Linked DNA regions of Homo sapiens: all the other regions are linked to region 3. The links come from fine-mapping of genetic effects on gene expression. Tissue or cell type: whole blood. Region 3 holds a variant in brackets; each other region holds the start of a gene. All regions are shown on one strand. Distances are between the middles of the regions.

The links. PIP is the estimated chance that this variant, and not a neighbour inherited with it, causes the effect.
Region 1: DNM3 starts here. The variant in region 3 is fine-mapped to the expression of DNM3 in whole blood (INTERVAL, PIP 0.99).
Region 2: SUCO starts here. The variant in region 3 is fine-mapped to the expression of SUCO in whole blood (INTERVAL, PIP above 0.99).

Annotation. Positions count from the first base shown.
Region 1 is chr1:171,839,913-171,842,595 of GRCh38, reverse strand. It overlaps DNM3 (dynamin 3), which reads right to left and starts at 1,098. Exons shown (of 21, transcript NM_015569.5): 1 at 779-1,098. The coding sequence starts at 939. RefSeq lists an enhancer at 674-853 and a silencer at 1,054-1,283.
Region 2 is chr1:172,531,989-172,534,671 of GRCh38, reverse strand. SUCO (SUN domain containing ossification factor) reads right to left here and starts at 1,522. Exons shown (of 24, transcript NM_014283.5): 1 at 1,175-1,522. The coding sequence starts at 1,236. RefSeq lists enhancers at 1,134-1,293, 1,904-2,153, 2,214-2,323 and a silencer at 1,414-1,583.
Region 3 is chr1:172,452,644-172,455,326 of GRCh38, reverse strand. All of the region lies in intron 3 of C1orf105 (chromosome 1 open reading frame 105), which reads right to left. Among named protein-coding and RNA genes, the nearest start is that of PIGC, 9.9 kb to the right of the region's middle. The variant A/T (reference allele first, on the strand shown) is at 1,170.

The sequences.
Region 1 (2,683 bases), 610 kb after region 3:
GCAGGAATGACATGGCACCTGGACAACATAAGTCCACGTCCACCCCCTGCCAAGTCTGTGCCTCGGGCTCTCTCACAATTGCCTGAAGCTGTGAATAGGTGCACACGCAAACACACCACCTTTTATTCTTCGACTCTCCGGGAGGAGAATGGTGGGGAAGCGTCTCTGGATAAAGCTTCACCACAACAAACGACGTCTTTCTCCTCGCACCCCGCCTCCCCAGCTAGAGGCAGGCAACAGTAGACAGCTGAGAGGAACGAGAACCCTGGCGAGAAGGAAAGCATCTCCACCTAAGGGAGGGGGCTCGGGGGATAAAGCCCCACAGCCTCACAGGGAGCCTCACGGAGGGCGACAGGAAAAGGAGGGGGGTGTTGAGCTGGGAAAACAGGAGAGGGGCACTGGGAAGCTTTCGGCGCGCTACGCAGGGAGGCTGCCCGGGGCTGGCGCGCACCGAGGGGGTGGGGGTCGAGCCCGGGGCGGACCCCTCCCCCGACTCCCCGACTGGAGGACAGGGAGGAAATGGCTTTGTATCGCACGATGAAAGGCAGGCAGGAGGGCCACCAGGCGGGGGGTGGCAGGGGACGGAGGATGCCCAGAGCTGGAGGACCCCGCCCGCCCCACGGACACCGCCACTCTGCCCCCCATTCCACTCTGCCCCCCATTCCACCGCAGCGCCTGGTCCATCCACCCTCTGGCTCCCGCTGCCCGTCCACGTTCCAACGGCCCGCAGCGGGGTCGCCCCACTGCCGCATCCTTACTCCGCGCCCTGCGCGCTTACCTGCCCACGAAGTTCTCGAGCACCGAGCTCTTGCCGGCGCTCTGGCCGCCCACCACGGCGATCTGCGGCAGCTCCAGCAGGCAGCTCTGTCCCAGCGCCGAAAACGCGTCCTGCAGACGGTTCACCAGCGGGATCAGCTCCTCCATCTCCCGGTTCCCCATCTTGCCCGAGGGGCCGGCGACCAGCTGGTCCCTGCTCGCCTCTACGACCTGACAGGGAGTAGGGGCCGCGCTGCCCTGGCTGCTGCTGCTGCGCCGGGCTCAGCCAGCCAGGTCCTGGCGCAGACGTCGGAGCCCGCCGCCAGCCCGCCGCTTGGCTCTGACAGCTAACGACCCGCAGCGCGCCTGCGCGGGCGGGCAGGGGCGTGGCCTATCTCCGCGACGCCCCGCCCCCGCCCCGCGGCTGCCCCGCCCCGGGCTTCCCATCGGACCACCAGGCCAGGCGCGCACGCACTGCAGCCCAGCTGCGGCCAGATGCCACGGCCTCTGCGTTCTGTGGCCAAGGCTCAGAGGCCAAGTTACAGCGCCGGGTCAGGAAATGGCATGAAATCAGCAGCAGCGGCAGCGTTGTTCTCTTTCAGCGGCTACCAAGCCAAAGCCCAGTGGAAAGCACTATCGCCGCTAACACCACCACACGATCACCAGCAACAGCAGCACCGCCGCCGCCACCACCGGGGCACCGCTGCCAGACTACACTTCCCGAAAGGAAATCTCCTCTGTCACGCCCTTCTCCAGAATCCGCGATGACTCCTCCCAGGGTGGCAGGCCTGTTGGAGTCTAAATTCTTCAATGTGACATCCATCTAAGGCCCTGAGTGGTCTGACCTTACTTAATTCTTCATCTGTAATGACTCGTCCTCCCCAGCCCCGCATAAGCACAGGTAGAGTCTGTAGGGTTTACCGCCCCGATACACCCCTTTAATCACTCTGGCCTGTGAGACTCCTCATGCCATTTGCCCTCCCGGTCTATCTCCTTCTACCGGATCTATCCAGAACCAGGTACCCTGGACGCATTCTGTGAAATTTAGCACATTGAGAAGTGACTGTGTGTGGGGTCCTGTGCCTGATGATCGGGACACAAAGATAAATGGCCATGCTTCTCTTAGCCTCCACAGACGGTTCCTTTTTAGTCTGCTCCTCAAATACTGATGCTTCGCAGGGTTTCATATATGGGCATTTTCTTGTCTAATGTTTGTCCTCTGCCTGAGGACTTTCCCATAGCTTTAACTCTGAATCAAGGCTGGCGACTACAGAAATTTACATTGCTAGACCCTGTCTCTCTTCTGCAACTTAGACTGTACTCCAAGAGGAGCCCAGAATACTACCTGAGTGTCCTACAAGTACTACAGACTCAATTTATTCAAAACTGAAGTCATCTTTTGTAATCTCAGCATTTAATGTACAGTTCCTTCTAACTCTAAAAAGACATATTAAAATGTTCATAATGTCAAAAAACCTGAAAACAACCCAAATGTCTATCAACAGGTGAATGAATAAACAAACGTGGTATATATATATAGTGAAATAATCTCTGCCACAAAAAAGACTTTTGATATAGCAACAATCTCAGATACATTATGTAGAATGAAAAAGGCCAAAGACCATATTGGTTTGATTTCATGTATGTGAAGTTCTACAACCAGCAAAGCTATTCTATGGTAATAGAAATCGGAACTGTGGTTGTCTTTGAGGAGTGGAGATTGACTGTAGGAGGCATGAGGAAACTTTCTGGAGTGATGGAAATGTCCCATGTCTTGACTGGGATGTGGGCATACATTTGTCAAAACTCCTCAAACTAAACTTTTAAGTGATGTGCATTTTACTGTACATTACATCTCAACTTTTTTTTAAAGCAGCAGAAAAAGACAAATAAAACTGAATGCATCTCCACTGAAGTGGATCTCTAT
Region 2 (2,683 bases), 79 kb before region 3:
TTTATTAAAAACAGGAGACGGGTATTAAAAGGATTCAGAATGAAAGGTAATAAGTCAATTGTTTTTGTTCTCAAAAACTTCTATCATTCTTCCAATAAAAATCCCTCAGCCAGGCGAGTGTTTTCTCTTCCCCTTGTTTATGTATTATTTTATGTGAGCAACAACTCTACAATTTCAGTGCTTCTGGAATCCATAAGGCATCCATAAAAATGAAAATAGTGTTGGTGCTTTGCAGAAATAAGCAAAACAGGAAACTTAATTTCTATTTTAATATAACAAACAGCAAATCGCCTAGACTGAAGAAGCATCTTTTCAGTCATCAATTGTCACACATCTTTGAAGAAATTCCCTGGGAGGAAAGAATGGCTTTTCCAAGTACGGTGACAGCAGTCCCTCGACTTACAAGCTTTCTCTGCTCCTCAAAAAACTCCAGAAGTGCCTGGGATTAACAGAAACTCCGTAAAACTTAAGGAGTGCTTTAGGGACAAAGCACTCTTCCCGCCTTGAAAATACAGCATTTACCTTCCCGTCACTAAGGGGCATTACCAAAAACTACTACACACACTACATCTAAGACACCCTCTCCACCAAACCAATTGAAAAAGTGCTTCATAACACACATACACACACGCCCCCCAAGTTTCCAAAAACAGCGGCCCGAGTGTACTTGGGATCAAACGCTGTGCGAGAAATGTCCAGGAGAACTACTGCTTATACATTACTCTTACCTTCATGACCACTCACGTTTTAAAATCGCACGTCCGGAACGCATCACATCCGACGTGCTTTATCCCCTTACCACACTAAGAACGCAAAGACTGGCGGCAAATCGGAGCAACTTACTTACCATCAATCTGAACACCCACCCCAAACCCTGCACCGTCTCCAAGGGGTAGAGGAACTGAGTACAAAGGCACTTGGTGGTTCCCTCTACCTTGGCACCTCTCTCTCTCCCACTGAGTCTCTGTAAATTCCAAAATACACCATGAAAATCTCCGCACAGAGCACTACCAGACCAGTCAGATGGAGAGTCGAGAAGTAATCGGTTTGTCCCTTCCACGGGGGCCTTGGAAACCCGGACCCTAAAAGCCAAAATGACCAGGGGGTGTGACCTGGGCTGCTCCCTCCCATTTACTCCCCTCACGGGAACTCCCTTGTCGTCGCGGCTACTCACCAGACCAGAGAGCACAGAAAGAGGCAGGAGACCAGGGCCAAGGCCCGCCGGTGCTTCTTCATCTTCTCCTCCTTCTTCCCCCTGCCAGAAGGCGGCACATCCTCCCGGCAGCCGCCACTGCCGAGGCCAAGATGGAGGAGCCGGAGCAGGAGCGCGAGAATGTGACCGATAGTCCTAAGGGCTATGGCGCTGGCTGAGCGGCTCCTCAGTGGCTCGCGTCCTGGCAGCCCTCTCTGAGGGCCCCACAGAGGCGCGGACAGGGGCGCTTCACAGGACTCCGGGGACCGCCGCCGCTGCAGCCACCGGCTCGTCCACGCCCGCCTCCTGCAGCCGCCACTGCCGCCCCATATCCTCCCCGCCCGCCGGGGGCCTTGCTCCGTGAGGCCAGCGACCAACGGCCGCCGCGTACTCGCCTCTCAACAGCCAATCGCCGGCGGGGCCGCGACACCTCACACACCGCTGAGCTGGAAAGGGACGCGTCACCCAAGTCCCGCGGCGCCCGCACCCCCACCAGCCTCTGCGCAGGCCACGCCCCCTTCGACGTCGCAGGCGGAGAAGCCGGAGGCAGGAGACCACAAAGCGCAGGAGCAGATGCTCTCGCCGCTCCGCCCGCCCCAGGTCCCGCCCACTTGCTGGCTTGCGTTCAGAAAGCCGGGAGGAGCCCAGTGATCCTCAGCATTTCCCCTTACAGTGGACCGCCCTTCGTCCCTCGCGCGCTGAGTCCGCGCAAGGGCCTTTGGGAGTTGTAGTTTGCCTTCCAGAATTCGTTTTTCTCTTTCCCAGTCCCTCCTAGAATCCATGGTTTTGTTAGAGAAGTCTATAGTTTCGCTGCTCACCACGAGACTGATCAGCTTTGGAACTGTTGCACTGTTTTCCTCTTTTGAGCACAGTTCGTGGAATGGCCTAGAATGACGTGTGTGTTGTGAGGGAAGCTGCACCAAGCCCTTTCCCTGTGGCAATGGACTGCCCCATTGAGCTAGATGTTGATTGGTAGATAGAAAGGGGCGTGCCAAGAATCCTCTCATCTGATTGGTTGCAGCGGAAAACCTTTCGCTTTTTCTTCTCTTCAGCAAGAATTTCGCCGCTTGCCGGGTTCCTCACTTTAAGTGTGCTTCGTTGCTTTTCGTTCTGTTGGTTTCGAACTTTGGGTTCTCTGCGATGGAGTCGGAAGGGAGGAGTTGTCCCCATTAGAGGAGCACCCACAGACGCTCCAAGTCCTGGGGTTCACCTAAAGTGGGGAAGGCAGTCGCTTACACTCACCTAAGAAGAGCAAAAAGTGACCACTTCTCAATACTAAGTAACGGGGCAGCATGCCCATTCCAAGTGTTTACGCCGCTGAGGGGACGGAGGCTGCAATGGTCTGTGCCTTGGAACATGGCATAATGTTTAGTGTGAAAAATGTTTAAAGGACGGGTTACTTATTGTTCATGTGGCCGTAGGGAAAAAACCCTCAGTAAAATGCCCACCTAACGCCTAATTTTGAGCCGCGGAATTTCCTTATGAACCTTC
Region 3 (2,683 bases):
GAACAGAAAGTGAGGAGTTCCTGAGGTGTGCTCCTAGGATGACCTTTGCCAGATTGTTCTGCAAGTAGCTTCATCCTGTGAGAGACATATGGCACTTAGGTGATGCATCATGGGGGGTTTGAGGGCTAAAAACTGTTAACAAAGTTGGATTCTTTTGAGAAACATTTAAAATACACTTCATTTTTATAGGGCATTCTAAAAAGAATCAACTCAGTATTACAATGTTGTGGGTTGGTATGTCAAAGTATGTGTGTGAATAACTAGATTCATTCATTCAACAGTAAACATCTATTGTGAGGCTACCAAGTAAAGGGTGCTGTGACGGGGGTCATACCGACGAATAAAGCAAAGTTTCTGGAAGGAAGTTTCTAAGGAAGACAAAAGAAGAATACAAATTCATTCATTTACCCATTCATTAGGTACTGGAGACATTTAAATAAATAAGACATAGTTTGTGACCTCAAGCTGCTCACCATCCAGTAGCCTATACATCAAGAAGTATGATGGTGTTGAAGGTGCTACAACAGAAATATATCGAGGCTCCAGTGAAGCTGAAAGGGGTCATTGAGCTTAACTGGGGGTGGGGCAGAGAGGGAAGGGTCTGAGAAGGGTAAAAAAAAACAGGCAATGCTTGGGTAGGTGTTTGTGGAGTGAACAAGGATGGTGAGGGTGTTGCAAGCCCAGGAAACACTATACAACAACCTGGAAGAATAATCTAGCAAATCAGCTTCGGGTAAGTGAATGTAGGTTGGGATGGACAGGTTGTCTGGTGGGAGGTTGAATGGAGTGAGAAGAGAGACTAGAGAGGAAATGTCTGTGGATATTGACTCCTCTGCTTTGGGCTGATTCAACTTTCTACCATGTCTTCCTGATACCCCTGGGGGTGATATCCCCTGAAGCTCCAGCTCCTCCCTCCATCCCTCACATCTTTGAGGTATGAGAGTGAGGTACATTTCTGAAACTGCAATTAAGGTAGGACACACTAGATATCATACAAGAGGCACTAATACCTCTGTGCCTTCAGAAAACAGAGAGACCACTTCTGATTGGAGAAATCAGGAAAGGCTTCCTAGAAGTGGAATTTGTACTCAGTCTGAAGGGATGAGGAAGACCTGGACAAGGGGAGGCAGATATGGAAGAATTCTTGGGCAGGTTTGTTTTTAGTAGAG[A/T]TATAAGTTCTTCACTGAAATTATTTCCTTCACCTTTTTCCAGACTTCTGGTTTCTGCTAAGACTACTATTAGACCCTATAGGAAGTGGAATCTCAGAGCTCATTGCAAATCAAGCAACAGATATTATTTGCAAGATCCCCAAAGTGCATTGCAAGATCTTGCTAGGTTAATGACAACTGTAAATGTGAGTACAGAGTCCCATAACATAATGACTGTCATCTCTTAGAATCTGAGGGATGAAATGCTTATATATTGTCCCACCTGGCCTTGATAGCTACTCATTTAAGACATAGTGTAGGTGTTACATCCTCAGAAAACCTTTCTCCTGGGCTGCTACCATTTCTCACCCTCCTAACCTCAGTTGGGTGCCTGCCTCTTTGATTGCATCATAAACTTGGTCTAGCTTTCTTTGTATTTGCACTATTCTTGATTTTAAATGTGTTTATTTCCTCCACCGGGCTGAGAGTTATTATATTTAAGAGCAAGAATCATGTTTTACACATCTTTGTATTCCTAGAACCTATGATAGAACCTGGCACACAGCAAGTATTCAACAAACATTGGGCAAATGAATGAGTCATTGTAAGCAATTTAAATTATGAGGTCTAAATATAGACACAATCAACCTAAATATATAAAACGAAAAATACATATATAAATGAAGATCACTATTGTAACACGGTCTTCAGGGAAACGTTACAGAACATTAGTGTTGTAGTACAACAAATTCATTCTATGTAATGCACTGGGGAAGAACACTGGCTAGACGCCCAAAAAGCTCTGTTCCAGTCCTGGCTCACAAACAACTTGGGTGACTTTTGTCAATCATATAAACTCTCCAAGTCTCCCTTCCCCTACCGATAATGGTCTTTGTGTTCAAAAAGACAGAGGCGGATGCTCTAATCCTGTCCCTTTACACTTTACATTTAAAGGTAAAAAGCAATCTTTGATCTGTGCTGTACTCTACCTCAGACTTGCTATCAGCTGAAGCCTGGCCTCCAAGAAGAGCTGCTCCATTTCTATCTGGAGAAGGGATGAGGGCATTGAAGAGTCGTGGAAGGCAGCTGTGACAGGCTACTTTAAAGGCGACGCAAACATTTGAGACGCCATGTCCTGCAGGCCTCATTTCCTCCATTCTGTCTTGCTTTCTTTCCCAGCCCTGAAACCCAGGTCTTTGGTCTTTTTCTTCTGTTGCATTCCCTTCTCACTCGGTTTCCTTACGACCAGCTCAGCAGCAATAACAGGAATGGAGAGGGAATTGTCCACATTCACAGTACAATGCTCTGGTTTTATCAGGTCTAGAGCCAGAGGCACTGGAATGTTAATGGGGCCCTCATTTCCCAAGCAGCTGTCCTCTGGATAGCAGATGGCAGTTGTGACAGGAGAGTGACAGCAACCTATGTGTAGCCTGGCCAAGGTATGATGCAGATTTCAGCCAGTCCCCAGAAGCCAAAAACACATTTGACAATTGGAAACATCCTCATACCCTAGGACAATATCTGCTGCGGTGTCT